Homo sapiens: one gene and its partners. Changing the gene in region 3 together with the main gene of any one other region gives a genetic interaction. Each region holds a gene or a part of one and is shown on either strand. Other genes may lie near its edges.

Region 1 (4,049 bases), on a different chromosome or scaffold from region 3:
CTCGGATCAAAGGAGGAGCACCTGGTCAGGACACGAACCCAGATCATGCACTGACCTGCAGGGCTGCAGGGACAGGGGAGCCAGGACCCCCTGGAGTCTCGATGTCTATGGTGCATAAAAGATGGCAGAAGAAATGGTTCTTTTCTGGCCGGGCCCGTTCCCTACCCCGTCTCTCCTTCTACTCAGGGTTGCCAGGACCACCTGGGCCTCTCACCTCAAAAAGCCTTTCATGGTTGTGTGTTCTGTGAACTTCAGGCAAACAGCCAGAGGAGAAAAATAATGCGAGCTTAGCTGGGAGATGCTTCTGGGAGGAAACAGAGCGGCTCTCTACAAGGACTGACAGCTACTTTCATTCTGTTTCTGTTTGTGGTAGAACCCGGCTACTCTGAGGACCTTGCATGGGGGTGTCTCACCAAAGCAGCGCGCTCCTCCCAAGACTGGAAAGGCCAATGCCACAATGGCTGGAAGAAAGTCCGCAGCCTCTGAAAAGCACGTGCTGGTGCCTGCAGGGCACGGCTGTGTTGGTCTCACGAAGTTTGTGCATGCTGGAGCAAACGACAGGTCGTTGCAGAGGCAGCAAGACAGCATGCTTCCTGCGTGTCCAGTACACACAGCAAGAGGGGAGTCTCCCCATCCCTCCCACCCCTGGAGTCAGCAACAGTCACAGGCTGAAGGGAAGAAGGAAACACACACACACGCACACACAAAGGTCAGCCCAGGTGCTGCGGCAATGCCACGTGTGTACCAACGTACTAGGCAGACTGGAATCAGACACTTCCTGTTGTCCCCAAGAGGAAGAGTGGCGGAGGAACCAGGACGAAAGGTGACATGAAGAAACTAAGAGGGAGTGTCAGCTCAAAAATAGTCCTCACCAATAAAAATTTGTTTGCAGGTAGAATCAAATACATATATATACACACACATATGTAGTAAGAGCCTAATCTATCACGTAAACTAGCCATTCATTTTTGAAATTTTATCTACATTTAAAAAGTAATCTATCTGATACAGTGCCCATGTGCAGGGAGGGAAAGCACAGAAGCAAGGGATTCAGCTAAAACTTAATTAGAAAAGAGGATTAGAAACAAGAACCTGCACAAATAGAGCACAATTGTGTCTTATAAAATTATTATAATACTCTCTTTATACTTGATACGATTATATCAATAATATAGATTCACTTGTTATTAAGGTTTATTATAAACATGCAAAATTCATTGCATGATGCATTTGCAAAACGTATTAAAATCCTTCTATTAACAAAACATCTTTGAGCTGTTAGGCATCCGGGTTTCCTGATTCTACAGCTCCAGGCCTGTCATTCAACGTGAACTAGAAATGGGAACCAAAACCATATTCTTTTTATCCCTAAGTGGACATCCAGGGCTAGAGAAGGGAGGAAAATCAATCGGTAGAGGCTGATGCTAGAGTCAGCACTTCCATTAAGTTACTGTACATCGTACTTTCATAAGCGACACTGCAGCCTATTAAATAAATAAGCACAAAAGGGGAGAGGGCGTACACTTCAGCTTCTTGAGAAGGATAACAAGGTAGGCAGCAAAATGTTGGTGTGTGTGGGGGTGGGTGTTGGTGAACAACACTGGTGAGTAGTGGCATGATTACTGATGGCACCCTGGATGGAAAAATAATCTCCCAGAGATTAAAATGAACATATGTACACACTGGCTTATCCTTGATCTGAAATGATTTCACACGCTTGTTCAGCAACGTCCTTAGACGATTTGGCCTCTTACAAAGAATGAAAAGTATCAAGACAGTTATCAACCAAGGAGGGTACCAGATGACAGATTCACCCAACACTCATCTGAGGTTTTTTTGTTTAAACTGGTAACTGCTGGACCATGGTTGGGTTAGGATTTGTCAATGTTTGGGAACAGTGATTAGGTTTATCCCGGCCTTTCAGATTCTAGGGGCTGTTTCCATGGAGGCAGAGAATGGACGCAGTCGGTATTTTGAGGCCTCCCCCACCCCCAATCCCTCCCTGCTCACTCTCTTGGCTTCCTGTTCTTGGATTCCAAAGACGTCTTGGGTGGAGATGTTTCCTGGGACAGGCTCACTTTAACATCTCTGGTTGGGGGATTCCAATGCTGAAAAATCCACAGATGGAGGGTATGGAAAGTATATCAAATTGTACCCAAAATGGGGCAACAGTCTGCTTGCTTTCTAGGAAGGGTTAACCTAGAGCCAGACGTAACTTCTACAGAATTAAACTGGACACTGAGCATGACGTACCATCTTCCACTAAGATAATGTTCTTGGTTGTAAGAGAGAGACCCTGAACAGTTGATCACATTTGGACTAATAACCCTACAATTTTCAGGCCTCCATATGGAATCAGACACAAGGCCGTGGCCTTAAAATTTTAGGGTTAAGGATTCACTTCCCACTGCGGGGAGGGCTGGGGGCTGGGGAGGTGTTTGTTCTCGCTGGTGAGTTTCATACTGCACTCTGTAAGATGGGGTGCACAAACTGGGGGTTGACATACGAGAACCCTTCAAAATCAGACTGGTCTATGTTAGCAATAACCAGCTGATCAGGTGGTGTTAAGACGGGCTGTCCTCGTGTGAAGAACTTGTCAAAGTTCTCTGCTCCTTTGCCACACTGTGGAGAAAAGACAAAAAGAAGGAAAGGTCAGTCAACATGACAATGCGGGAGCAGCTCTCCGAGGGCCCTCTCTGGGGAGGGGCACGGCCCTGGGGAACTCCGGGCTGGTTAGGAGGAGGAATCTCGGAGGACTTGCAGGCCTATTGGATTGAAAAGCCAGGCACAGCAGACAACAACGAGTTACCCAACTGTAAACCCTGAAACACCCCGAACAGAAGCCCTGGGTGGGAATTGCACGGCTGGCAATGAGGCAGCAACAAGGGGACAGCCCCTGTCCCCTCACGTCCACCTCACCGAGCAAGCGGAGCTGAGAGCACGGAAGCCACGCACGCAGGGCCGTCAGTCACAGCTCCGTGTTGAAAGGCCAGGATGTCGGCTGGGGCTGCAGGCAGTTACCCCTGGACCAAGCGACGGGGTGAGTTACTGCCCCACATCTGTTTTTTTGCCGCAATATTTGTAGTGAAGTAAAAACTGTGTTATCCTTGCCTTCCTACTGGGCTGCTCCAGCAACCCCAGCCCCTAAATTAAGCTTCAAGCGATATGAGGTAGGTGTGGCGGCAAGGCTGGGAGATTTGCACCTGGCCCAGCTAGGATTTAGCACACCTAGACAGAGCTGGCCAGCGGGCAGGCTGGGTGACTGACTGGAGCTTATTTGCAGGGTGGTCTCAGGCTGGAGGATGTTTGCATGGCGCCCTGGGGAGGCAGGGAGAGGCCTGCTGTCTCGGCTGTTCCTCTCCTCCAGGGTCCACTCCAGGCAGAACTGTTGCACTGGGGTCGCTGAGACACACAGCCGCTTAGGCAGCACGGCTTGGTAGCCTGACCCCAAAAGTGGGGAAGGAGTGTTCTCTTCACCTTGTCAGCCACCCACAAGGGTAGTGGCGTGTTGAAGTCCCCGGGAGCCCAGGGTGACTCTGAAGCAGGAAGAGCTGGGAGTTTCACTAAGGATCCTAAGAATGATTTTCAAGATGCTGCCAATTACTGCCCTTGGACCTGCTGCTAGCACCACAGGGCCAATATGAATTAACTCTGAGCTAGCACACATTTCAAACTAACCAGGCATCCTTGGGTCTCTAACAGAGAATAGCTCTGGATTAACTGTGAAGTGGGGTCCACCAAGTTTGCTCATCTGTAACACTGGGAGAACAATCACACCTCCTGCCCAAGGCTGTCAGGAAGGTGAAATGTATGGGGTTTTGCACAGAACCCAGCCGAGGCGAGAGGCCAGCACGTGCTGCTAGTGTTTTTATAAGGCAGTTGAGTCTCACGGGCTGTGCTTTCTCAGCTCTTTTTTCACACTTTATCTTCTAGGAGGTGTGCTTGAGAACCTACTTTCGTTTTTTTTTTTGAGATGGAGTCTTGCTCTGTCGCCCAGACTAGAGTGCAGTGGCGTGACCTCGGCTCACTGTAACCTCTGCCTCCTGGGT
Region 2 (4,049 bases), on a different chromosome or scaffold from region 3:
AAGTTGAGGACTGAACAAAATGACAAGCCCTAGGATAGTTTCATCTTGTGAAGTCTGAAGTGCTTTTCCCATAGCAAGTAGTCACTAATGGTCAAGAAGTTAGAAACTTAAGAGTCACTCAGGCTGTGGATGAAGCAAACCCAGGCACCAAGGCTGTCCTGTCCGGGAACCAAGTGCTTCTTGCACTAGATCCTTACCCTACCACACTTGCCATTCAAATGTCATTTCATCCCTTTGCATCTTTCTCCTTAAGCCCTGAAGGGCATCCGAAAGGTATGAATGCAGATCCAAACCTGCCTAATTGGAGTTGACAAGAGTCAGACTGCCTGGGCTAATGTCAGTTGTTATTTCTTTCTCCTGCTCCTCACTCCCCTGCCCTGTATCTTGGGGCTTTAAAGAAATGGACCCTTACAGCTGATTTCTCCAGGGGCAAGAATTCTGCAGCAGGATTCAGATTCTTTAACTTGTACTTCACACAGGGCTCAGCAGTGTTACCATGGCCACAAGAGATGGAGTTAGAGATTTTTTTTCAACCAATCATTCCTTAAATATTGAGCACTTTCTGTATACAAAGAGATATATTGATACATGGTCCCTTTTCTTATAGAGTTTATCTCCTAGAGGAAGAGAGAACAAAGAAACAAGATATTTACAAATAGCAGTGGGCTCTATGAAGAAAATTAATAGAAAGGGAGCAAAACACTAGAGAAGCCAATGCCATTGCCTCAGGGTCACACAGTGATGGGAATGCTCTCTCATTGTTCTCCATGGGTGCCCGGTGGGGCTTGCCTTGGGCTAATATTGGCCAGAGGCAATACTCAGAAGTTTCCCTGCTGGGTGCTGGGCCCACTGAAGATGAAGGTCAGGGCAGGAAACAGAAGGGGTGCACTCTGACTCTTCCTCCAGCTCTGAGCCCTGGAGAATAAAGCTCAGACAGGGCTGGCTGCAGGGAGCATGGCTCACCACCACTAGCTGCTCAGGTGAGGGGAAAAGGAAGTCAAAAGATTATGCCCTCTGATTGTCCTATCCTATTTTGCAGGTGCTGCTGATAAAGCTGGAACTCGAGAAAACCAGGTTGGCTGGGGATTGCTCTCTTCCTGGGTAGGAGGGAAAGCCACAGGCTAGAGCCACCTTTAAATTAGCTTCTTATTAGATTTCCTGAGGCTTTATTTCATGAGAACACCCCGGAGATTCTGACGGTTTTCACTCACAGCCCCCTCCCATCTCTATGAATAGAAAAGCTTTGCCCCAGGGCATGTTTTTAGCTAAGGAAAGGGTGTCTTGCCAGGATCATTTTTCCTCATTCCACAGGAGACCCCAGGTTCACCATAGCCAGGCCCAGTAGTCAGCTGAAATAAGCTGCCAGTCAGACCTATTCACCTGAGCCTCCAACTCCCCAACCACCCCAGACACCTTGCCGGCTCTCAGACCACCTGGGATCCGGAGCTGAAGAGTTGAAGAGTATGTCCTTGAAAAACAGCCAACCAGCTCCAGGCCCAGCCTAGCCTGGGCGTCTGCCTTAATGGCCTGAAGAGCTCCTCCCAGTCTTTGAGCTTCCTAATCTGTCTCTATTGGCAGGTTCTACTGCCTTGCCTTGTCTCATCTCAGCCTCCCTTGCTACAGCTGTGTGGCCACAGTGATAAATCTACACAGCTGCACAGTGCTTGACGGCTTGCAGGGCAATTTTATATCCATCACCTCATTTGATCTTCAGACATCCCTGTGAGAGAGGCCAGACATTCTTATAATCCCCATTTTACAGTTAGGGAAATGAGGCTCAGAGGCATTACATTTGGTTGAGGTCACATAGCTAGGAAGCGGTAGAGCTACAAAATCATATTACCCTCTAGTAGAAATGTAGTCAGTAACATCCCAAGACAGGGGAGAGGGATCAGAATTGGATTACAATAGAAGACTAGAAACCAGGATGGAAACATGGGACTGGTGGCTGAGCAAGCAGCCATTACTCATAGTGACTACTCTCTATCCTTCTCATCCTGCCAGCCAGCTGTGGTGCATCTACAGGGCCAAGGGTCAGCAATTCAAGTCAAGAATGGTAAGAATCAAAATAGGCTCTCTCCCAAAGAGGAGCTTCTCCCCTGCCTCCTCCCCAGCCTCCAAATAATCACCCAGCCTAGTTCCTCCCAGGCCGCTGAGGTACCGTTGGCATACGAAGTCATTCTTTGCTCCATCATGCCCTCTACTGGCTGTCCTGAGCAATTGCTGGCATCAAGACCAGTTGCTACACCCAAATTGCTTTAGAATCACTGATGACGGAGCTGAAAGGGACTTGAGACATCATCTAGCCCAGGCATTCTCAGGGGATGGAGGTTATATCAGAGCCACCATGGAGATATGTGTAGTTAGATTAATATTTTCACAATACAAATTATAGAAAGTAAAACTATGTAAAATTAAATTTTTCTTGTCTGATCTACACAGGTGGGCAGACAGGCTGCATCTCTCAGGGAAGGTGGGGCATGTTAGAATCTCCAGGGAATTTAAGATGCTAGTGTCTATCAAAAAGGAGAACATGTTTAATGGGGTTAAGAAACACTGATTTGTTGTAATCCCTGCATTTAAAAGATGGGGAAACAGAGTCCCAGAGAGATTGGATAATACCATAATAAATCATGCTGTCTCATATTTGTACGATACTTTAGAGTTCTCAGCATACTTTCTTTGTCTTTAATTTCATTCAGTCCTCACAACCACCCTATGAGGTAGGTATGAGCTCCTTTTTACAAGACAGAAAGTGAAGTTCAGAGAGATTAATTAAGTTTCCCAATATTTCTTAGTCAAGTTAGTTTAGGAGCCAGGATTCAAAACTACATCTTTCTGACTCTTTCCTCTCCCCTGTGCTACTTCAGTGATATGTATGTACACTCCACTGAATGATTAGGTTCATTTTCTTCCCCCAAAGAAACATGAACATTCATGAAAGAACAGCACTTTGGAATAATGTCCAGTCCCCAGAGTGCACAAAGCCTAAAATGCGTGAACCCCCAGGAGCCTTGGGAAGCAGCAAGCTAGCCAAGATGCCAGATGCTTACAGAGCTTGGGGTGGAAGGGAGGGGTTGTGAGTACAGAAACGGTAAAGGAAGGTTAAAAAAAACAGCTACATGGGGACAGTTTCTAAGAACTCAGTCAGTCCTGAACTGGCTGTGCTGAGTTTCCTTAATGACTGTATTTAGCTACTTCCCTGACTGCCACCTCCATGTCTGACTTAGTAGCCTCAGAAGTGTAAATAGGAACACAATGGCACCAAAACCCAATTGGTCCTGCTGGGGACCCCAAGGCCCTGAGTGGGCCATGATCCCCACCTGTCCAGGGAGGCCAGAGACAGGCCAAAATAGATTTGTTTGGATATCTAGATGGATAGTGTTTATTCTGTGCTAGCAGCCACTGATTTTGCTCCCACTGCCACATAATAAGATTGTTTCCAGCCCCTCTGGGCCAATCCTCAGAGGTGGTCTGTGCTGACCTTTAGTACTACCAGAAGAAGTGATGGGGGTGGGGTGCAGTGACTCACACCTGTAATCCCAGCACTTTGGGAGGCCGAGGCTGGCGGATCACATGAGGCCAAAAGTTTGAGACCAGCCTGGCCAACATGGTGAAACCCCGTCTCCACAAAAAATACAAAAATTAGCTGGGCATAGTGGCACACACCTGTAATCCCAGCTGCTCGGGAGGCTGAGGCAGGAGAATCACTTGAACCCGGGAGGTGGAGGTTGCAGTGAGCCAAGATCACACCACTGCACTCCAGCCTTGGTGACAGAGTGAGTGACAGTCCATCTCAGAAAAAAAAAAAAAAGAAGAAGAAGTGATGGGGTCAGGGGTTGGAGGACGTCATGCAGAGTGGTCCATTGATGGGACAGAGCCAGGGCAGCTCCTAGCCCATCTACTTACCACCTCAAGGAAAGATGGTCACCTTTTCCAGAAAGGCTGTTTCCTCACCCCTCAGACAGGCAGGCCTACTGAAACTGGCCAAAGATGGACTTATAAAATATAATTTCTTGGGTGCAGGATGGATGGCTTAGAGGGGAAAA
Region 3 (4,049 bases):
CAGTCCCATTGACCAGCACAGCCCGGCTGGTGCCTACAGACAGACTCTGGCCTTCAAGAGTGAGACAGGTGCCTCCTGCCCGTGGGCCAAAGAGGGGTTGCACTGCTATCAGCACTGGCTCCTAAGAGGACATAGAGGTGGCTTAGGCAGGTCCTCCACTCCAAGCCCCTCCCTTCCCGTACCATGCACTGGCCAAGGGCACAGACAGGGCAAGGTAGCCTCACCATGAAAGAGAAGCCTCTCAGCACGGAGGTGCCGTCTACCCGGAAGTGCTTGCCCGGTGGCATGTTAGTCACGGTGAGGCTGACGTTGGTAGGCCCCACTGCCTGGGTGCCCAAGGGCTCCAGTTCACACTCAAACTCCTCTACAAAGTCTTTCCGGGGCACTGGTCTGGGGCACCAGGGGAACCCCTGAGGTCAGCCAGGAATTACACAGGCCTAGATGCATGCCTGCCACAAGCCACAGGGCTCCTCTGAGCCAGAGAATGGCATTTCTCCACCCATGCCTCCCTCCATGGAAGGAAGGTTCTGGTGGGGCAGAGATTAACCTTGGCTGGTCCATGAGTGAACAGACAGGAAGGGCACATGAAAGCTCAAAAAGGGACAGAGACCTTTTTGACTCTCAAAAAGCAGTCAGAACCACTGCAGCTTCCCCCATCCCCCCTTGCCTCTGATAAGCAGAGAACAGGGTCTCATGGGGAAGGGGCTGCTTGGTTTCCCCCTTCAGGGAAAGGGAGGGGAGGGACCAGATTGTACCTGAGTTTTGAGCTGTCCTTGGGCAGTGGCCGGCAGGGACTTTGGCCCACAGTGACCTGATGGGTTCCCTCAGGCACCAGACCAGAAGGGTGAAGGTAGAAGTTGGAGCCACACAGGGTCAGCCTTGTACTGCCCCTTAGAGGTCCACTGTGGGGGTGGAACTGAAATGGGGGAAACAGCCTGAGTCCTCATGTGGGGTTGGGCTCTCTCAGCCCCACCTGCTTCCCCAAAGTCTCCTGCCATACCCCTTGCCTTCCCCACGCTCCAGCCATTTGGAGTCACTTGCATTCAAGCACTTTCCTGCCTCCAAGTCTTTGCATGTGGCATCCCCTCTGACAAGAATGCCCTCCTTGTAGATATGAAGGACACCCCCCAGACCTGAGAAAAATTGTGATCAAGACTTGCTGACCACCACCCCAGGCCCAGCCTGTCCCACTCTTACCTGTGCCCTGCCAGGGAAGCCATACCTCAGTAAGCTTAGGTGGGCAGTGGTCCTGTTGCCAGGAGCCAGGACACTCCTTCTGCTGGCCGCACATGTTCCCACACCAGCCACAGCCCATGAAATGCCATGCCCTTAGGCAACGCCCACAGGTCAGGAAGTGGCGGCAGCCAGGGCCTTGGATAGGTACCTGGAAAACCTGTGGGTGAAAGACAGGTGACTCAGGGGTGCCTGGAGGGAGAGATTGGGCCCTATAGACCCTCCCGGTACACAGTAGGCTAGGGTGGTAGGGCCTGTATGTCAATGCCTCCCTGGATTGGATGGAGAGTCTGTGATCCCACAACCCTGGCCCCAGGCCCTGCCCCTGCCCACCTCACCTGGTCCCCAGAGGCAAAGAGTAGGTGGTCCCCAAGACGACTGACATCCCGCTGCACGGGCTGCCCACTGTCACCCAGTGAGAAGTTGGACACATACAGCAAGTAGTTTAGTGACCTGACCAGCTCCACCTAGGACAGGTCAGATGTGAGCAAAATGGGGATGGAGACAAGGACCCAGGGCTAGGGGACTGTGGGGATGAGGACCCACCTGCAGGATACGCCCATCCATTGTGCCCATGTGTGCCACTGTGACGTTGTCAAGGCGTGTCACATACAATGCAGTGACCTGTACTGGTCCCAACAGCCCATTGAATAGGTCCACACGTGAGAAGCTGCTACTGACCAGCAGAGGGAAGTGGCGGCAGCTGGTGTTGGGGCTGAGGGCTTCCAGGCCAGGCTGGGAAAGGTCAGGGAAGGGAAGGAGTCAGGGTTCAGCCTTGTGCCCCGACCCTCTGGGGCCTTTGTCAGTGGCCACAGCAGCCCAACACTCTCACCCCTCACCTGGCCTGACTGGAGAAGGCCCTGGGCCTGCCGGTTACCATCCCACATTGCCCCCACAGGGCTCTCAGTGTAGCAAGGGCAGGGAGAAGGCCCAGGCTGGAAGGTCCACTCCTCATTCTCCCTGCCCCACCCTGCCATGCCCATCCTGATGGTGAGTTACCCCCATTCCATCCTCACAACCACCCCGTACATCTTTTTTTTTTTTTTTTTTTTTTTTTTTTTTTTTGAGACGGAGTCTCACACTGTTGCTGGGGCTGGAGGGCAATGGTGTGATCTCAGCTCACTGCAACACCTCCCGGGTTCAAGAGATTCTCCTGCCTCAGCCTCCCGAGTAGCTGGGATTACAGGTGCTCGCCACCACCCCTGGCTAATTTTTTGTATTTTTAGTAGAGATGGGGGTTTCACGATGTTGGCCAGGCTGGTCTCGAACTCCTGACCTTGTGATTAGTCCGCCTTGGTCTCCCAGAGTGCTGGGATTACAGGCATGAGCCACGGTGCCTGGCCCACCCCGTACATCTCACAGATGAGGAAACAGGCTCAAGAGGTTTGGTCTCTGGTCCAAGGCATCATAGACCCTCAAGAGGAGAGCCCAGTTGGAAGTCTCAGCTCCGCAAGAGTCTTCTCCTGCCCCCTGCTGGCTCTTCTCTGACTCTCTGTGTGCACTTCAGCAAACCCTGTCTCCTCTGGGCTTCGGTTTCCCCACTTGCATAAGGGGCTGAATGCTGGAGTTAATTGGCCAGCACAAGGTTGGGGACATGGTCCTTCTCCCTAGACTCCAAAGGTCTGCCTGTACTCCTGGCTGCTTCCTATACCCCCCTTCAGGGTACAAAAGGGATAAACCAAACCCCTACAGCCTGGGTGCCAGAACTAAGTTCTGGAAGCTAGGGGGTACTAACCTCTCCCCTGCTTTTAGCAAGGGGGTGTTTTTGGGGGCTGCAATCACGCTCCAGGGGAGGACTGTGGAAGCTCTGGGAAACCAGTACACCAGGGTATGAACTCGCGGTGTTGGAGCTGAGTGCGAGGTGCAGACGGGGCTCAGTAGCCAGCCCTAGGTGCTTAGGACTCTCTCTCACCAGCCCGGAGGGCACTCCTCGAAGCAGGAGCCTCTGAAGGCTCCATCAGACCACAGAGGCTTAACCCAGTCCTGAGACCTCAGCACTGATTAGTAGCCCTGGAGGCAAAAGTAGATGTGGAGCTGAGCCTCGAAACCCCATACACCTTGTGCCTACAGCTTGGGGTGGGTGGGGACTGGGATTTTGTCCTCACTTGAGGCAGGAAATCGGCTTGGCTTGGCCCGAGCCGGAAGGCTGCCAGGTGTTTCTAGCATGACTCAGGGACAGGTGGGGCTCTGAAGGGGAATAGAGCCCTACCTTAGTCAGGCCCACACCCTAGCCTGCTTGTCCCTAGCCCCAGGACCTTAGCTCTACGTTCCCAGGCTTAGGTAGGGGCCCCCAGCTCCTGAAAACACGTAAGTGTCCAATGTCCCATGGAGGACAGGCACCAGCTCTGAGTCCCTCAGGCCTCCTGAGGCCAACCACTATGTGGGTGCTGCCCTAGTGGCTGCATGCCCAGAGTTGCTGGGCAAACACTGCACGGGGTGATTCACACACCTCCTGGGGGCCTGGCCAGCCTGTGAGCAGGGACCAAGATTAGTCTTCCTGGAGCCTGGCACTGCCCAGCCGTGCTGGGTGTCTTCTGACCCACTGACCACTAGGCAAGCTGGGGAGAGGTTCTGACTCCCCATTGGGAAGGAGAAGGGGCCAGGCAGGCCTGCCCAGGCCCAGACAAGGAGTCCCCAACCCTAGGGCCTCTCAACCCAGATGTACTCAGCAGAGGGAGGGAGGCTAAAGACCCCCAACCTCACATTGGGTGTAAGTTCTCCCATCTCCGAGGCATCAATAGGAGCGGAAAGGAGTCTTTCGAGAATGTCACAGCAGGCCCAGGGCCACAGGATGATAGCTAGAGAATCTAAGAACA
Region 4 (4,536 bases), on a different chromosome or scaffold from region 3:
CCAGTCTTATTTTACATAGCATTTTCAGCTTGGGTTTTCTGCACCAGTGGGTAGAGCTCATTAGCATGCTTTTCTGCTAAATTTAAAATGTTTCCTGATACCTGAGAAGGCTTAAAGGAACACCCATAACCTTCCACCTTTTTGGAGGAGGGACACGGCCTCTTTTAGTGGATGAAAACAGCTCTGACTCCACAACGTCCTGCTCTCTCACACGCCAGGGTCACGATCCCAGGCTGTCCCACCGGGCTTGTTTAGGAGCAAAAGGAAACAAACCCTCTGGCCTGGGGACACCAACAACTGGCCGAAGCCAGGAGCCTCTGCTGTTACCCCTCTTCAGCTTCCCCTTGTGACTTGAGCTGTTCAGAGGGGCTCAGTTTTAGGGGTCCCTTAAGGTTCCAAACTGTGTGAATGGGTGTGAGTCACAGGACTGGTTCTCAGGCCTGGGCAGCTGGAGTAGCCCTGTCCGCTCAGAGCCACAAGAACGGTACTGAAACGCAACTCTCGAAGAGTTCCAGTCTCTTCTCCAAGGGACTGAATAAAATCAGAGCTCCTCCAGGCACATGTCCAATTATTTTTACAAAGTTTTATTGAAACTTGTCCATCAAGGTGACAGTAATTCACTGTTTTGAAAAGTCACAAAAAAGGGTACCCCCAAACTCAGGTATACCAAGTAAATACTGGAACCCAGGGAGCTCACTCCTCCCTCTCCCACCAGGAGCAAAGGGCATAACGGGAGCTTCCGCTGACTCACAGCAACCTGGGCTAGTGGGTACATCTGTGGCGACTCCCGGGAAACTGAGCTGCGTATAAAGAAGTCTGCTTTGGTCCAAAGGACATCTTCCTGACCCAGACTCAGAAGGCTGCTGTCAAGTTCTACATTCCTTTCAGAATAAGCAACAGCAACTGCTGCAGTCTTGCTAACTAGGGGCAGAGGTCCTGAGCAAGGTGCCACGGGACCTTGTAAAATCACGCTGTGTGATTTTATAGGGAAGAGGGCAGAGTGCCTCTCAAGTTTTCACGGTTAACACTGTCACCTATTATGACTGGAATAAAAAGCTGGACAACCTGCCAGCTAACTGGTCAGTCCTGAGGATCATCCAGCTGAATGGAGAAATCCGGCAGCAGGTTGAAAAGTCTGTTCTGAGAACAGATTATTGCTGAGCAGAGTTCATGTGACTTCTAGACGTGGTGACTTAAAAAATGGCCTTAAGGCTGCAGAGCCAGCCACCTCTGCTTACAAAAAGAGTACTTAGTGCACATGACTGTAAGAAACAATTGTAAAACCTCATCTAGAAATCAGAAAGCTTCTAATTTCTATAGAAATGACACCTCCCTGGAGCCGAGAGACAATCTGTTGTTGATTTTGAAGGACAGGCAAGACCAACACTGTATTTAGTTCCATAGCCAGGCCTCAACAGGGACAAGTGGCTGGCCTTAAAAACACACAGATGACTGGAAATGATGTGTGGCCTCAGTCCCTGTTTCCCAGAATTTTACTGGCAAAGGAGTTAGCATTCATTTTTGGCTTAAGAAAAATCGAGAATGTAGGTTTAGAACTGCACCCAGCCTCATGCACCGCGGGGCCAGGGCTGCAGATCCTCTGCCACCCCTCCCTCTTTTCTTGGACTTGATGAGTCCCCGAGGCTCAAAGCCATGGGGGTGCTAGGAGGACTGTCACAGACCGAGGCGCTGCAGGAGCTGCTCTGCCTGGACAAACCTTCAAGCAGGACCAGGGCAGGTATGAAATGTCTTCTGAAGAGTGTGAAATGAGCAATGTACAGTCCATTCCCTCTTGGGGAAAGCATGCACGTGTGGAGCCTGGTGGTGTGCTGTCTCCTGGGCCACCATCCGCCCCCAGCTCTTCATATGGGCTTGTATAACAAGGTGGTGACGTACTTCTTCTTGTACCGGTGGGTTGCGCTGAGCACCATCACTCCATCCTAAGGAACAAGGTGGAAATGATCAAAGGCTGGACTAAGGGGCTCAAGCCTCAGAGGACATGAGAATCATTAAGGGCTTCATAAAACCACAAATTCCCGGGCCAGCTTCAGAACCTGAGCCTGATGGCCTGTGCCAGACCCTGGAAGCTGCCCTTTAAGTCAGTCCCGCCAGGTCATTCCACTGCTGGGGGTCCTCAGAGCACACACTGGGCAACACAGCTCTCATGGGGACAGACATGTCATTACCTTGATAGACAGCGCGTATAGGTGGTTCAGCATGACGTGATTGGGCTCAGGAAGCAAAGCTGGATCACACTGTGAGGGAACAAAGGCAGCGGTGAGCATTTGGGATTTGGAAACCAAGATTCTCCCCTTTACTTCCCAGTGCCAGATATCAAAGGACAGGAGGCAGCGCTCAGGCCGACCTCTCTTCCCAAATCAGGCAGCGCAAGGGCTTGTCCAAGACGACAGGTGAGATGAAGGTCACGCCTTCTGACCTGAAGGGAGCTCCCTGCATGCCTGCTGGAGGCATCGGTGTGTGTCTCTGGCCAGGCATTTACCCCGGCCTCTTTCAAGTGTGGGCCACGGCCCTGTCCTCTTATGGAGGGTGGGGCAGGAAGAAAGCAGCTATTAACAGCACTTTCAGAGAACACAGGAAGAGACCATCTGCACTAAACGCTCCTGAGCAATGGATTCAAAACTTGTATCTGTAAGACTCAATGAACCTGAAGAATGAAACGGATACCTGGGCAAGACACCACTACTCTGGAAAATCTGCCACCGGGCTGGCACTCAGAGCTGCCCGCCGCACCTTCCTATGTTTTAAGAGAAGCCAGAAATCGGGATTTATTTTTTCATTGTATACCCCCAACTGTTATAAATGCAATTCAAATGGAAAAAAGTGTAGAACAACTGCTGTAGGCTTAGGATCCCAGAGGCTGGGCCAATCATTGTGTCAACAAATACTCAGCAAGCTCCCGCTGGGAGGCCATTCAGGGTGGCTGCTGAGAGCACCAACTACCAAGGATCTGGCACCAGCCAAGCCTGATGTGACTGCTGGCTCAGCCAGTTGCTGTGTGAGCCTAAGAGGGGTTTTTAAAAAATTAATCAATTTCAAAGATTGACAGATAAAATTATGTATATTTACCATGTACAATATGTTGTTTTGAAATATGGACACATTGTGGAATGGCTAAATCAAGCTCATCAACACACGCAGAACATGCTTACCATGTTTTTGTGGTGAGAACACTTAAAAGCTACTTTTAGTGCACTGCTGATGGGCATGTAAATTAGTACAACCATTATGGAAAATGGCATGAAGGTTCCTAAAAAGTTATAACTAAAATTACCACATGGTCTAGCAATCCCACTACAGGGTAGATACTCCAAGGAAATGAAATCAGCATGTCGAGATATCTGTACTCCCACGTTCACTGCAGCTCTATTCATAATAGCCAAGACGTGGAATCAACGTAGGTGTCCACAATGGATGAATGGATAAAGAAATGAGGTACTGATACACAATGCAGTGCTGCTGAGCCTTACAAAAGGAATCTTGTCATCTGTGACAGCATGGATAAACCTGGAGGACATTAAGTGAAATGAGCCAGGCACAGAAAGACAAATCCCATGTGATGTCACTTATGTGGAATCCAAGAAAGTCGAACTCACAGAAGTAGAGAGTAGAGTGGTGGTTGCCAGCGGCTAGGAGTGGTGGGGGTAGGGAGATGCTGGTCAAAGAATACAACATTTCAGTTAGACAGGAGGAATACGTTCAAGAGATCCACTGTACAACACGGTGACTATTAGTAACAATGTATTCTTGAAAATCTCTAAGACAGTAGATTTTAAGTGTTCTCCCTACTGCTCTGTGCCTCAGTTTCCCCATCCCTAAAATGGGGGTAATAATTGCACCTACTTCACATGGTTGTTGTGAGGCTTGAATAAGAATACACGAAAAGCACTTAAGATTAGTTTGGGGCAAAATAAATGTTAACCCTTTAGTAGTGACAACTGTAACCACAGTTTACATTAGAGCTTAGTGCTACCTTGGACAGAGGGGTCCTGACATTCTCATATTCCCAGCCCCCTGGGCCACTCTCAGCTTGTCTATTCCCAGCAGCAGTCTCCATCAGAGAAGATGGCTAGTGATGCCTCCCTTTTCTAGAAAAAACAAAACCTGGCCAGGCACGGTGGTTCACGCCTGTAATCCCGGCACTTTGGGAGGCCGAGGCGGGTGGATCACGAGGCTAGGAGATCGAGACCATCTTGGCTAACATGGTGAAACCCCATCTTTACTAAAAATACAAAAAATTTGCCGGGCGTGGTGGCGGGGGCCTGTAGTCCCAGCTACTCGGGAGGCTGAGGCAGGAGAATGGCGTGAACTCGGGAGGCGGAGCTTGCAGTGAGCCAAGATGGCACCACAGCACTCCAGCCTGGGCAACAGAGCAAGACTCCGTCTCAAAAAAAAAAAAAAAAAAAAACAAACCTCACTAGCTTAGGAGGGCACTGAAAGTCATCTTACCCACCAACCTTTGTAAAGTTAGAGCTAAGGGAAGCAGTGTCAACTAAGTGCTTCTAAGGCAGAAGCTAC
Region 5 (4,707 bases), on a different chromosome or scaffold from region 3:
CTTTCGTCTATTAGCTAGTTTATTCCTAGAGGTAGATATTATCAATCCGTTTCATAGATGAGGAATCTAAGACCCTGAGATGGAAAGCAACTTGCCCATAGTCACACAGCTAATTAGTAACAGGGCCCAGTTACAAACTCAGGTCATCTAATGCCAGAACTTGTTCTACTAATTCCCTCCGGCCTCAGGATGAGGCTGTTCTGATGATAAAGAAGTTGGAGTGCTGTATGCAGACTTTAGTGACGGAATTGTTCAGGGAACATGGGTAGAATGCCCCTTGTCACATTTTATCTTAATGGAGACAGCAATAAATGCCACTCTGCACAGGATTGCTTGTGTCCTTCCACGGCACCCCATTCCCTTCAAGATAGAGCTAAAGCCTCGGGGATCCACAATCAGTGCACCCTCCTGGTCTCAGCCCCTCCCTGCCCTGGTAGCCTTGTTTTTTAGGTGATACCTGGCAAAACTGAAGACTGCCCAGTATGCAAAGCCTGGCTCATCAGCACACCAGCTTCTTCCTACTACCCACCATGTGCACAGACATACCTGGCCAAAGTCACAGGTGCCCAGTGCCCTCCACAGAACCTACTCCATGACTATGTTCAAGTCACTTGATGCAGTGTGCAGCTCACAAGCACACCAGACTCTTCCACATCTCTATGCCCTGGTACAGGCTGTCCCTTCTCCGAGGACCTCCTCAGCACAACGGACCCCCTGCCAAGACTGAGTTGGAATTTAGACTCCAGAGTTCCCCCGTGTTAGTGCCAATGATGGATGTTTTGCATGGGAAGCACCATACCACTACATACATCATTGTGACTCACCTCTCAGATTCTCTAGTCATTATTAATCCCACAGGGTTGCAGTTCTCAACCTTCAGTAAACATCAGAATCATTCTAGAAGCATGTTGAAAGTGCAGATCCCAGGGCCCTTCCACCAGGAGATGTAGTTAAGTGAATCCAGGATGGGGGCCAGGAATCTGTATTTAACAAGTAGACTATGTGATTCTGATGCACATGGCCCTTGGACCCCATCTTGTAAAACACTATAGCAGAAAACCCTATTTGAGATATTCTTTAAGTCTCATATCATGGCCATATGTATTTTTTACATGATCAATTGCTATGTTAAGGCAGTTTTTGCAGAGCACAAGGCCAAAATCAACCAGAGCTCAGTAAAATCTATTTGTCGGCTGTCATGAATGTCACTTGCTGTGCATCTGATCTACTTATAAAGATGAGTTTCTAAGGTCAGGACTTCAACACCTGCCTGGCCAACATGGTGAAACCCCGTCTCCGCTGAAAATACAAAAATTAGCCAAGTGTGGTGGTGCATGCCTGTAGTCCCAGCTACATGGGAGGGTGAAGCAGGAGAATCACTTGAACCTGGGAGGCGGAGGTTGCAGTCAGCAGAGAGTGCACCACTGCACTCCAGCCTGGGCAACAGAGCGAGACTCTGTCTCAAAAAAAAAAAAAAGAGTCTCATTTGGTCATTTAAAAGATCAAGCTGTGAATTCACCTGATAGTTTACAGTCTGGTTATTTAGGAACCAGATCTCGAAGGCAGGAAGATTTCTCCAGCACTATGGTCTTCGGGCAAAAAGGGCCATTTGGGGCTGAACATGGCAAAATAAACTATTCCAGAGCCAAACACAGGGCCCAATATAAGATAAAGAACAGTCGCAGCTGCATGAACCTGTGGCAGAGGCACTGCACTCAGAAGCAGCAAATGGGCCAGAACCCAAGGCTCTGGGTGACCATCAGCAAGGCTTGGCCAGTGGTGTGGAGAAACACCATTCATCCCAAACCAACCACCTAAAGCAGGATCAGAGTGGAAGGACTGGGCTGGGAGGGCTCCAGAAAATGCTCACTGCTTCATTCACCCACTCAATAAGTGTGTGTCAAGCCCTGGGCTAGAAACAAGGGCTGCAAAGATGACTTATACAGTCATGGCCCTCCCAGAGCAGAGGGGCTGACCAGCACGAATGCAGATGGAACTCATTGCCATTGCCAACACCAATATGAAAGAGAGGCCTGTGAGTTGAGAGATCAGAGAAGGAGCAGGGAGCAGGGAGGTGAGAGAAGAGGTGGCAATGGTACAGGGCTCAAAGGCTGAAGAGGAGTCAACCAGCCAAAGGGACAGGGAGAGGAGGGAACTCGAAGTGCAAGGAACAGCATGTGCAAAGGCACAGAGGCAGGAAGGAGCAGAGCCTGCTGGGAAAAGTAAGCAGAATAAGAGGTTCCAGGGTGGCAGATGATGAAGCTGGAGTGGTGGGCCAGACCAGCAAGGTCAGGTCCATTCCAGTAAGATCACTTGGATATAGAAAATGGATTGGCAGAGAGGGCCAAGACAGGAGGAGGAGGAGCACTGAAAAGGTGGTGTTGGGCATCTGCCTGGGGCTGCTGGGCTTGGGGTACACTGACCAGTGAGGACCAGGGGACCTCAAGTCCCTCAGGCACACCCAAGGGGGTGGCGAGTGTATGAGGGGGAGGGTAGATTATTACGCAAGGTCAATAAAATGGTGTCTCTGCATTTTGTCCCCAGGCAGCTCTCCAGATACAAAAACTAGAACCAGCTGCAAGCCCCAACAGGGACCCCCTGCAGCCTGCCTTCCCAGTCAATCAGAGGAAAATTAATGAATCATACACACAATGCTAATCTCCCAGTGGGGTTAGAATAGGGAAGGCCCTTTGCTTTGTCTCCTGAAATCTCAGCAAAAGCTACTATATCCTAATGCCCATAGCGCCCAGACACCTCAGATGCACCCCTTACCTCCTTGGCTTGCGGCTTACAGGGTGCGGATGGGGCCGCCCATGTCTCAGGTGAGGAGACTGAGGTCCACAGTGGGGGTAGGATGCTCCCCAGATCCAGTGTGACGCTCTGCGCCCCGGGCCAAGGGCAGGCAGCGCGCCCGGCTTCCCGGAGGGTTCGTACCGGGGCCCACTCGGCCCCGCCCCCGGCCGCACTCCTGTGCCCAGGGGGCACCAGGCGCGGGGCAGAGCCGCGCCTGCTTCACCTGCTCCTGCTGCCCCGATGCTGCCTGCGTGCGGAGTGGAGCGGCTGCTACGCTCCCGCCTGCGCCCGCCCAGCCTGCCCCTTGCGCCCGCCCACGAGAGGGCTCCAGCCGCCCGCCTGCCCCGGGACCCCAGCACTCGCCCTGGGGAGCCGCATCTTGAGCCCCCAAGGCCTGCCCGGAACTGCAGCCCTGCCTGCGTGTGTCTCTCACGCCCACCTCAACCCTGGATACAGGCAGGCTGGAGCTGCGCTGTCTTTCTCTCTTTCTTTCTTTCTTTCTTTCTTTCTTTCTTTCTTTCTTTCTTTCTTTCTTTCTTTCTTTCTTTCTTTCTTTCTTTCTTTCCTTTCTTTCTTTCTTTCTTTCTCTCTCTCTCTCTCTCTCCCTCCCTCCCCCTCCCTCTCTCCCTCCCTTTCTCTTTCTCCAGGAGTGTTTCTCTCTGTCTAGGGGTGTGTGCGTCTGCCTGTCTCTCTCTCTCTCTGCCTCAGTTTCCTCATCCATGAAATGGGTATAAAAAGACCTGCCTTTCATAAGTTCGTCCAGAAACATTACTTGCAGACCTCCTATGAGCCTGGCTCTCCTGCTGGGCACCAGAGCTGGACAAGACAGGCTCCCTGTCCTTGGTTCCTTCTGGAGCTCTCAGCCCTGGGGGAGAAGACAGACAGGGTACAAGGAAAGAGGGAAATAAATTATTACAGGGGGTGAGATGCTGTGAGCAAATGGGTTCGATAGGCCAGATGGATGGCACAGCCACGGCAAAAGCCCTGAGGCTGGGAGCATTCAGCCCCTGGAGACCAGGGGAGGGCAGTGTGGCTGAGAATGTCAGCCAGGGTGAGGGAAGGAGATGGGCATCCAGGGTGTGAGTGAAAACTCAGGGTGGGCCCTGGAAGTGGAGTGTCTTATCTCAGGCAGTCCCAAGGTTGTGGCGATGAGAATTCAATGAGAATGGTCACTTTCTCCTTTGGAGCTGAGATGCACATGACTTGGCTATAATGGAACAGCTTTGCTTACAAGGGCTGCTCCTGTTTTGAATACACTAGCTTATAATTCCCTGCCCCCCATCCCCACATGGCAAAGTCACATATGCGCTTAGAGAACCTCCTGAGAGTAACAGATCTGCTTCAAGAGCACCTCCTAAACACTGGACATACACACCTGTCCAGTGAACCTCCTGTGGCTCCCCATGGAAATGTCCCCATGAAGTCATGGCAGTGGTCCCTCTAGAATGGCAGCTGCCGTTTGTAGTGCAGAGACTCTGCAGACACTACCTTAGTTAATCATCACAACAGCTCTGAGAGGTGGGCATTTTTATTCCCATCGTGCTGATGAAGCAAAGTGACACTCAGTGGTTGAGCAACTTGCCCAAAGTCACTCAGCTAAGAAACAGCCAGATCCAGGATGCGAACCCACCTGCCAAGCCCCCAGGCCTCTGCTCACCATCGCTGTAGACTGGCACCTGTCATCTCTTCTTTCTGGACCATGCTCCTTCCTGTCTTGACTACCTGGAAAGCGGCTGCTCCTCCGTTGCACCCCAGCTCCGATGTCCCTGCTGCCATGACAAATTCCTACCACCCTCCCATGCTCTGCTGCAGAAGCAGATGTAGCAGCCTAGTTGGTTGTCTGCCTGAGCAGCTTTGTCTCCCCACTCCCCTATGTCTAGGTCACAGCTCTTGTCTCCGCCTCCAGATCCCAGC
Region 6 (4,049 bases), on a different chromosome or scaffold from region 3:
AGGCTCAAGTGATCCTCCCACCTCAGTACACCCCCTCAACAGTATCTGGGACCACAGACACACGCCACCACCAATTCTTTCCCTCACCCTGCCATAACTTGGGTTGCTGCCACTCAAGCCCCTAACAGAAGTCCCAAGCCCCATATTCTTTTCTGTAGCTCAGGATGCTATATAAGCTTCAATTATCTGACCCTTCTTTGAGCCTCATATTTTGTAGGATTCCTGTGTACAACTATGTAATTAATTATTTTTCCTCCAGTTAATCTGTCTATGTCAATTTAATTCTCAGCCCAGCCAAAGGACCTAGAAGGGTAGAGGAAAGCCATTTTTTTCTCCCTTACACCTTCTTTGATCACTCTTTTAAAACTGCAGCCCCACCCTCCCTTGCTAGACATGCCCTATGCCCCAACCTGCTTTATTTTCTTCATAGCATGTACAATCATCTGATATAAACATGTAATTATATATTTATTGCCTGTCACTCCTCATTGGAATGTGAGCTCCATGAGGACAGAAACTTAGTTTTGCTTACTTTTGTTTACTGCCATACTCCCAGTATGGTACACAGTAGGAGCTCAATAAACATTGTTTGACTCAACGAATGAATTATTAGGTAAATAGCCACTCCCATTATTGTTATTCTGGCTTGACAAGGGTCTGTTTCTTCAGAAATTTAGTGGGTTTCTCTTCAATTAGGTATCTGCTATGCCCAAGGCCTCTGCTCAGTGCTGAGGAAACAAGCATGGACAAGATGTGGCCTCCACCCTGAGGAGCTCCTAAATCTAGGACAGAGTAAATCTGTTAGAAATGTCTTCTCTGCACATAATTTAAGCTCTACCAACTGTTAACTTCTTTTCATTTATCCAAGTTTTGCCAGGTACCACACCAATAAAAAAAGACTCAGTCCCTCTTCCTTCAGATATCTGAAGCTGGTGATATTCTCCTGGGTCTTCTCTTCCCCAGGCTAAACAAAAAGACCCAGTGGGATTGCCTGACTCAGGTCTGCCAACTGGGAACAAGGAAGACAGACTGTCGGATAGAGGGGCAGAAGAGAAGAGGATCCAGGAGTAGAGTGACTCCTTCAAAGAAAAAAGAGGGAGTCCTTAGGGAGGACTCTGTGGAATTAGGTTGGAGGTTGGGTGGGGACAGGGCCTCTGCTTAATTAAGGCAGTAGGAGATTATACTTCCGTAGAAAAGCAGTACACTGGGAATTACCCCTATGTCTATCCACATTAAACTCAGGCAAAACCACAGTTGCTTCAAGAAAGCCCCATGATGGAAGGCTGAGGGCACTGGCAAAACCAGGGAGACTGGACACAGAGGAGGACGCTCAAGCCCACTGGCCTCAGGACAGATATCTGCTGGGGGAAGGGACAGAGATAACAACTGCTGTTTCATGCAGCCCAAACAAATCTGGGGACACCCATACAAAAGTCAAGAAAACCCTCCAGGTTCCATTGGAGCCCCCTGAAAAAATACCCGGGTAATTTTCGACAGAAGCTAAAGGGCTCTGTGGGGCTACTGGGGAAATTATTCCTAGGAAGTCTGGAAAACCCTGTGATGGTAACAGAATTTTAAGAGCAACCTCAAATGTACACTCAGAAGAAGTAGGTGTTTCAAGGGGGAGCCCCTGAGACACTTCTACTTAATTTTGGGACCCGAATGAGATTACTAAAAATTTCCACATTTGGGGTTTCTAATGGGGTTTCCCTAAGAAAACCACAGAACTGCCACTATCTGCAAAGGGAGCTGAGGTGCTTCAACTAAGCATACATCCATCTGAAGAAGCCACATTAGGCAATAAGAGATCTACAGAAACTCAGACCACTGAGCCATACAGCTTAAGAAAGGCCAAGTTATGTTTTCTCCCCCAACACAGTTCATTGCTCCCAACAATTACGTTTCTATCAGGCTAAGGGATTTCTTCAGGGACAGCAATCCCAAAGTGGCAAGGCCCACCTGGGTCCCTTCCCACATTCCCATTGGAAAGCACCAGAAACACTTGTGTCCCTTCGGGGAAGGTCATGTATACAACATTCCAGGAAAGTATCACAGGGACTTTGTTTCTCAAGGAGAAACTCTAGGGGGAAGAGTCAGTTCTCTGAGGGAAGCTGCCCATTCATTAAAGGGTTTCCACCCTACAATTATGGCAGGAGAAGGGCTTTTGTGCTAGATCCTTTACTCGAGTCAAGCTATGGCAGCTGGCTATCATTATTCCATTTTACAGGCGGGAGAGACAGATGGACAAGACAGCCGAACAGGTTCAGCATTTCATCAGGTGACTCCAGGCAGGCAGTAATCTGGCTAAGGGTCTACACTTTCAGTCCTTGAAGCATCACTCCACCACTAAGTAGAGATACCTGGGGCAGGCCACCTTCTCCCCACACGCACACCACTGTCATCTATTGGCAGGGCCTGAGAGGGTTTTAACAATGAAAAAATTGGCCGGGGCCAGGCACGGTGGTTCATGCCTGTAATCCCAGCATTTTGGGAGGCTGAGGCAGGCGGATCACCTGAGGTTGGGAGTTTGAAACCAGCTTGACCAACATGGAGAAACCCCATCTCTACTAAAAATACAAAATTAGCCAGGTGTGGTGGCGCATGCCTGTAATCCCAGCTACTTGGGAGGCTGAGGCAGGAGAATCACTTGAACCCGGGAGGCAGAGGCTGCAGTGAGCTGAGATCGCGCCACTGCACTCCAGCCTAGGCAACAAGAGCGAGACTCCGTCTCAAAAAAAAAAAAAAAAAGAAAAAATTAATAAGCAGCTCACTCTGGGCAAAACCCTGATGCCCACTTGAAACCTGCCATGTCTGAGTTTTACCAGTGCCAGAATCTGAGGCTACCAACACGCCTCTGGGAACCTGCTACTGCCAACTATCCTTCCCATAGCTACCTGAACAAAGCCAGTTATCAGTCCAGAGTGAGCACCTTCACAGGCATGGTTTGCTTGGCCCAACAGCATCTCTGGCTTTCTGGGCCAGCATGTCTAGGTCACTTTATTACTCCCTGGACAACTTGATAGGATGAAAAGTGTTGGCTTTAGAATTATGCCAACCTTGGTGTAAATTCTCATTCAGACACTTAACTGGCTGAGGGACACCTGGGGTCAGTCACTTAGGCACAAAGACCTTCATGTGTAAACTGGGAATAAACTCACCTTCCTTGGAAGGTTACTGTAGAATATATGAAACAGCATGCCGTTTCCATGAAGGAAGGTACCATGCGTGGCTTATGGCCAGCACCTAGTACACTGCTAGCTTCACAGTAGATGCTCAAGAAACACTGGTTGCATAAGTAGAGGACCTAACACAGTGCCTAGTACTTAACAGGTACTCAATAAAGACTAATTTCCTTCCCCTTTCCTGTAGGGATGCTAAATTTAGAACATAGCCCTGAGTAGAATAGCCCATAACTCCTACCCTTAAGGATCTCCCAGCCGCAGTCTCCAGGATAATTACCCGATGCCACCACAGTAGCCAGTCGGTGCAGCTTGGAACAGGATAATACCTGAGAGGAAGGGGGCGGGTACCTTCTACCCAGGCTCAAAGGATCCTGAGTCAAATGTTCTTTACTCCCTGGCCTTAGGGAGAGAATGTGTGCTCAGAAATGGTTCTGATATAACTGGCTCTTCCACACACATCCCCTCTGTTCACCAAGAGGAAGTGACATGTGGTATGTTGTCCAACAGGCTCTGATGATTCTTAAGCAAAGAGATGGAAGATGGAATTTCAACCCCATGGAGATCTAATAAACTTACCCAGAGTTGCTGTGTCTAAGACCTCTTTCATATGCACCACTGGGCAGCTGGCAATTCTCTGGTAGGGGTAGCCTTCTGCAGAGGCTGGCTAGCAGACCAGGCACCTCTCCCAGACTGCCTTTTGTTTATAGCTGGCAACAACCCACCTGGTATTAGGACCACTGGCCAAAGACAATAGTCAGGCAAAGTGGGCAAGCAGCCTCAATCCCTACTTGGAGATGCCTCAGAGGGTGTGTCTGCAGTACTGGAATCCTGTCCCTCCTGTAATCAGCTGAACAAATATTTGCCCCA
Region 7 (4,049 bases), about 93 Mb from region 3:
AAGTTACATGAAGAAAGTTGGTAATTCCCTTACAGAATTTTTTATAAGGGAATTAAAATTTATAGCATTTTGGTAAGAGGAAAAACAGGATGTAGAGAGAAGGATTTGTTTAAACCTTCTAAGACTATAGAACCATAGTCTATATATAGACTTAAATAATATAGATCAATTTAGATGTTTATTTTGCTTTATGAGACTCTAAAAGTAGTTTCACTAGAAAACACCTAACATCTAATACATTCTTGCTGCCTATGAATAATATAAATATATTTTCTAAGGAATATTTCTGGAAATTATTTTTTATTTTCTCAGTACTTGTTGGGCCCACTTTATGCAGCTTTGAAAATGGAAAGTATGGAAATCATTGAGGAGATTCAATGCCAAACTCAACAGGAAAACCTCAGCAGTAATAGTGATGGAATATCACCCAAAAGGCGTCGTCTCAGCTCGTCTCTAAACCCTTCTAAAAGAGCACCAAAACAGACTGAGGAGTATGATGACCTTCATTCAGTTTGTATTTAGCCATTAAATAAAACTTTGTTCACTTTTAAAAATCAGCTTTAGTTAAGTGCTTTGATTTAAATACACAAAGAACATCTTTCTAAATGTAGCCAAGGGAGTGCTTAAAATATTTTTATAATTATTGTAGACGGTTAGTAGTATAAAACATTTCATGGTTAAATATAGTTACTTTGCATGTTTTTATATGCTTATCTAATTTAACTTTTTAATATGTGAAAAATCTTTGAGACTGTGCATCTATTAGCAATTTTTAAAACATTAACCAACTATTTTTTATAAAGTGGCTAAGTTGCCATATTTCAGTTACTTCTGAACATTGTTTTAATTGTTTTAAATCTTAGTATAAATTTCAGGCTGGGCGCGGTGGCTCACGCCTGTAATCCCAGCACTTTGGGAGGCCGAGGCGGGCAGATCACGAGGTCAGAAGATCGAGATCATCCTGGCTAACACGGTGAAACCCTGTCTCTACTAAAAATACAAAAAATTAGCCAAGCGTGGTGGTTGGCGCCTGTAGTCCCAGCTACTCGGGAGGCTGAGGCAGGAGAATGGCGTGAACCCGGGAGGCGGAGCTTGCAGTGAGCCGAGATGGCGCCACTGCACTCCAGCCTGGGAGACAGAGTGAGACTCTGTCTCACAAAAAAAAAAAATTTTTTTGAATAGTTGATATTACATAGTATGTTTTATTCTAAATATGTTTCATGTTTTAACCAAATTTATATTGCATATGAATATCTCTCTACTATATTCATAATTATAGAATTAAACATGTGGACATGAACCAAAAGAGCATATTATGGAGTGCACTGAAACAGAAAGCTGAATCCCTTCAGATTTCCCTTGAATACAGTGGCCTAAAGAATCCTGTTATTGAGATGTTAGAAGGAATTGCTGTTGTCTTACAACTGACTGCTCTGTGTACTGTTCATTGTTCTCATCAAAACATGAACTGGTAAAACAAACTTCTTGTTTCTTGGGGTTGGGTTTCCTGTAATGAACTTGGATTTACTGTTTACTCATTATTCACTTGACTCATGTAACCTTAGAACACAAACTTTTCACTGAAGTAGTTAATAAATTTATTTTCTATTGAGTCAAATGCTAGGTACGGTGCTAAGCACTGTATATATCTTAGTTAATATTTACAATAGTCCTGTAAGGTAAAGGCTATTATGCCTATTTTAAAAATTAGAAACTGACACTCAGAGAAACTGAGGCTCTTTTTTGTCTGAAGCCAAAACTGACTTTCCTGGGGACACATGATTAGAAAGTACCAGAACACATTTGTGTACAACTCAAAACCCAGTGTTTGGCTGTTGAAGACAGGGTCTCGCTTTGTCTCCCAGGCTGGTGCACAGTGGCATGATCATGGCTCACTACAGCCTTGATCTCTATCCGGGGCTCAAGTGAGCCTCCCATGTAGCTGGAACTATAGGCATGTGCCGCCACACCCTAATTTAGAAAAAATTTTTTTTGTAGAGATGGGTTTCCCTATATTGGCCCGGCTGGTCTCAAACTCCTGGGCTCAAGTGATCCTCCCACCTCAGGCTCCCAAAGTCATTTGGTTCCCAAATCCTAAGGGTGATTTAAGCTGACATAAATAGATTCAACTTAAAATAGTAATAACATATTACTTGATTTGCATGTTTACTTTAAATTGTTATAGATAAATTTCGTACTCACAATTTCTTTTGGCTTTACTACAATTTTATGTTTGACTATAACAAAATTCATCTTAATTCCAATGTTTTTAACAAAATGTACTTACTGCAGCCGTACTTTCAAGGACTGTCAACATAAATCCAAGAAGAAACCTTCTGTAGTGATAACTTGGATGTCATTGGATTTTTACACAAAAGTGCTTAAGAGCTGTAGAAGTTTGTTAGAATCTGTTCAGAAACTGGACCTGGAGGCAACCATTGATAAGGTGGTGAAAATTTATGATGCTTTGATTTATATGCAAGGTGAGTACAAATTAGCAACAGATCAGAATAACCTTTAAAGATAATCAGTATAGAAATATGCTTTCTTTTTTGCCTGAAGCCTAAGTGCGTGTTTGGAATACTCAGAAGTTTTTTCCTGATTTCAGTTCTATTAAATTTGTCAATAATAGAAGTTCTGAGTTGCCAATTTATGTGCATAATATTTTGATTCTTTAGTCAATAGAAATTATTTATAACTTCAAAGTTTTTTAATTTGGGAGTTTGAGGAATGCCGTGATTCTTCTTTAAAACAGGCATAGATAACATGTTTTTATAAAGTCACATTTAATTTCTTTGGGTTCACAGACCTCAGACCATCGTTTATAGATCTCTGTGTTAAGAATTTCTGCTTATCCAATGATCATTATGATAGTATTTCAAATGTCTTTATTTTTATTTAAAAGAGATATGATTAAGGAAAAGTTATAATTAATGACTTATTTTGTGCTTCTGTAGTAAACAGTTCATTTGAAGATCATATCCTGGAAGATTTATGTGGTATGCTCTCACTTCCATGGATTTATTCCCATTCTGATGATGGCTGTTTAAAGTTGACCACATTTGCCGCTAATCTTCTAACATTAAGCTGTAGGATTTCAGATAGCTATTGTAAGTGCTCACAAGAATGTGTGTGTGGTTTGTTTTATTTATCTATCTATCTATCTATCTATCTATTTATTTATTTATTTATTTATTTATTTATTTATTTTTGAGACGGAGTCTTACTCTGTCGCCCATGCTGGAGTGCAGTGGCGCAATCTCGGCTTGCTGCAACCTCCGTCTTCAGGTTCAAGCAATTTTCCTGCCTCAGCCTCCTGAGTAGCTAGGATTACAGGTGCGCACCACCATACCCAGCTAATTCTTATATTTTTAGTAGAGGCGGGGTTTCACCATGTTAGCCAGGCTGGTCTCGAACTCCTGACCTCAAGTGATCCACCTGCCCCAGCCTTCTAAAGTGCTAGGATTACAGGCGTGAGCCACCATGCCTGGCCTTGTGTGGTTTGTTTTAACTCATCTCTATATAGGACTTCTAAGACTTATTTATATTTTTTTCAATAATTAAAAGAGCAGGTACATTTTTAATAGTTCAGAAGGGGGTTAGATACATAAAAAGTAACACATAAAAGCCTGCCCCACATATCCCATTTCCTTTCTTTTTGTAAAACATTTGCAATGTGTCCTTACATATCATTATCTTCATTTAATAAAATTAGGAAGTATTTGAGAAATATTTTAAAAAGAAGAACAATATACCAAAAATTCTTATACCAACTTCTCAGTTTAAGAAATAGAAACATTAGGCCAGGCACGGTGGCTCACGCCTGTAATCCCAGCACTTTGGGAGGCCAAGGCATGCGGATCTCTTGAGGTCAGGAGCTTGAGACCAGCCTGGCCAACATGGCAAAACCTCATCTCTTCTAAAAATACAAAAATTAGCCAGGCATGGTGGCTCACGCCTGTAGTCCCAGCTACTAGGGAGGCTGAGATACAAGAATCTCTTGAACCCAGGAGGCAGAGGTTTCAGTGAGCCAAGATTGCACCCCTGCA

The links.
Region 1: changes in MST1R (region 3) and PRKCA together harm fitness more than expected from each alone (negative genetic interaction), as found in Homo sapiens cells (one large-scale study listed by BioGRID).
Region 2: changes in MST1R (region 3) and EDA together harm fitness less than expected from each alone (positive genetic interaction), as found in Homo sapiens cells (one large-scale study listed by BioGRID).
Region 4: changes in MST1R (region 3) and PRKAB1 together harm fitness less than expected from each alone (positive genetic interaction), as found in Homo sapiens cells (one large-scale study listed by BioGRID).
Region 5: changes in MST1R (region 3) and NPY4R together harm fitness less than expected from each alone (positive genetic interaction), as found in Homo sapiens cells (one large-scale study listed by BioGRID).
Region 6: changes in MST1R (region 3) and BCL2L1 together harm fitness less than expected from each alone (positive genetic interaction), as found in Homo sapiens cells (one large-scale study listed by BioGRID).
Region 7: changes in MST1R (region 3) and ATR together harm fitness more than expected from each alone (negative genetic interaction), as found in Homo sapiens cells (one large-scale study listed by BioGRID).

Annotation. Positions count from the first base shown.
Region 1 is NC_000017.11:66,802,446-66,806,494, reverse strand, and holds part of PRKCA (protein kinase C alpha type), read right to left. Parts: intron 2,623-4,049; coding exon 2,458-2,622; 3' UTR 1-2,457. UniProt on the Homo sapiens protein: Calcium-activated, phospholipid- and diacylglycerol (DAG)-dependent serine/threonine-protein kinase that is involved in positive and negative regulation of cell proliferation, apoptosis, differentiation, migration and adhesion, tumorigenesis, cardiac hypertrophy, angiogenesis, platelet function and inflammation, by directly phosphorylating targets such as RAF1, BCL2, CSPG4, TNNT2/CTNT, or activating signaling cascade involving MAPK1/3 (ERK1/2) and RAP1GAP.
Region 2 is NC_000023.11:70,028,465-70,032,513, forward strand, and holds part of EDA (ectodysplasin-A), read left to right. Parts: intron 1-1,039; coding exon 1,040-1,074; intron 1,075-2,004; coding exon 2,005-2,056; intron 2,057-4,049. UniProt on the Homo sapiens protein: Cytokine which is involved in epithelial-mesenchymal signaling during morphogenesis of ectodermal organs. Functions as a ligand activating the DEATH-domain containing receptors EDAR and EDA2R. May also play a role in cell adhesion.
Region 3 is NC_000003.12:49,897,296-49,901,344, forward strand, and holds part of MST1R (macrophage-stimulating protein receptor isoform 1 preproprotein), read right to left. Parts: intron 1,969-4,049; coding exon 1,780-1,968; intron 1,701-1,779; coding exon 1,572-1,700; intron 1,394-1,571; coding exon 1,223-1,393; intron 917-1,222; coding exon 756-916; intron 391-755; coding exon 225-390; intron 122-224; coding exon 1-121. UniProt on the Homo sapiens protein: Receptor tyrosine kinase that transduces signals from the extracellular matrix into the cytoplasm by binding to MST1 ligand. Regulates many physiological processes including cell survival, migration and differentiation.
Region 4 is NC_000012.12:119,677,652-119,682,187, reverse strand, and holds the end of PRKAB1 (5'-AMP-activated protein kinase subunit beta-1), read right to left. Parts: intron 2,256-4,536; coding exon 2,187-2,255; intron 1,941-2,186; coding exon 1,863-1,940; 3' UTR 569-1,862; downstream 1-568. UniProt on the Homo sapiens protein: Non-catalytic subunit of AMP-activated protein kinase (AMPK), an energy sensor protein kinase that plays a key role in regulating cellular energy metabolism.
Region 5 is NC_000010.11:46,462,906-46,467,612, forward strand, and holds the start of NPY4R (neuropeptide Y receptor type 4), read right to left. Parts: upstream 3,054-4,707; 5' UTR 2,773-3,053; intron 1,828-2,772; exon of another isoform or gene 981-1,827; 5' UTR 825-980; intron 1-824.
Region 6 is NC_000020.11:31,715,925-31,719,973, forward strand, and holds part of BCL2L1 (bcl-2-like protein 1), read right to left. Parts: intron 921-4,049; exon of another isoform or gene 697-920; intron 1-696. UniProt on the Homo sapiens protein: Potent inhibitor of cell death. Inhibits activation of caspases. Appears to regulate cell death by blocking the voltage-dependent anion channel (VDAC) by binding to it and preventing the release of the caspase activator, CYC1, from the mitochondrial membrane.
Region 7 is NC_000003.12:142,557,685-142,561,733, reverse strand, and holds part of ATR (serine/threonine-protein kinase ATR), read left to right. Parts: intron 1-312; coding exon 313-491; intron 492-1,279; coding exon 1,280-1,471; intron 1,472-2,292; coding exon 2,293-2,483; intron 2,484-2,957; coding exon 2,958-3,110; intron 3,111-4,049. UniProt on the Homo sapiens protein: Serine/threonine protein kinase which activates checkpoint signaling upon genotoxic stresses such as ionizing radiation (IR), ultraviolet light (UV), or DNA replication stalling, thereby acting as a DNA damage sensor.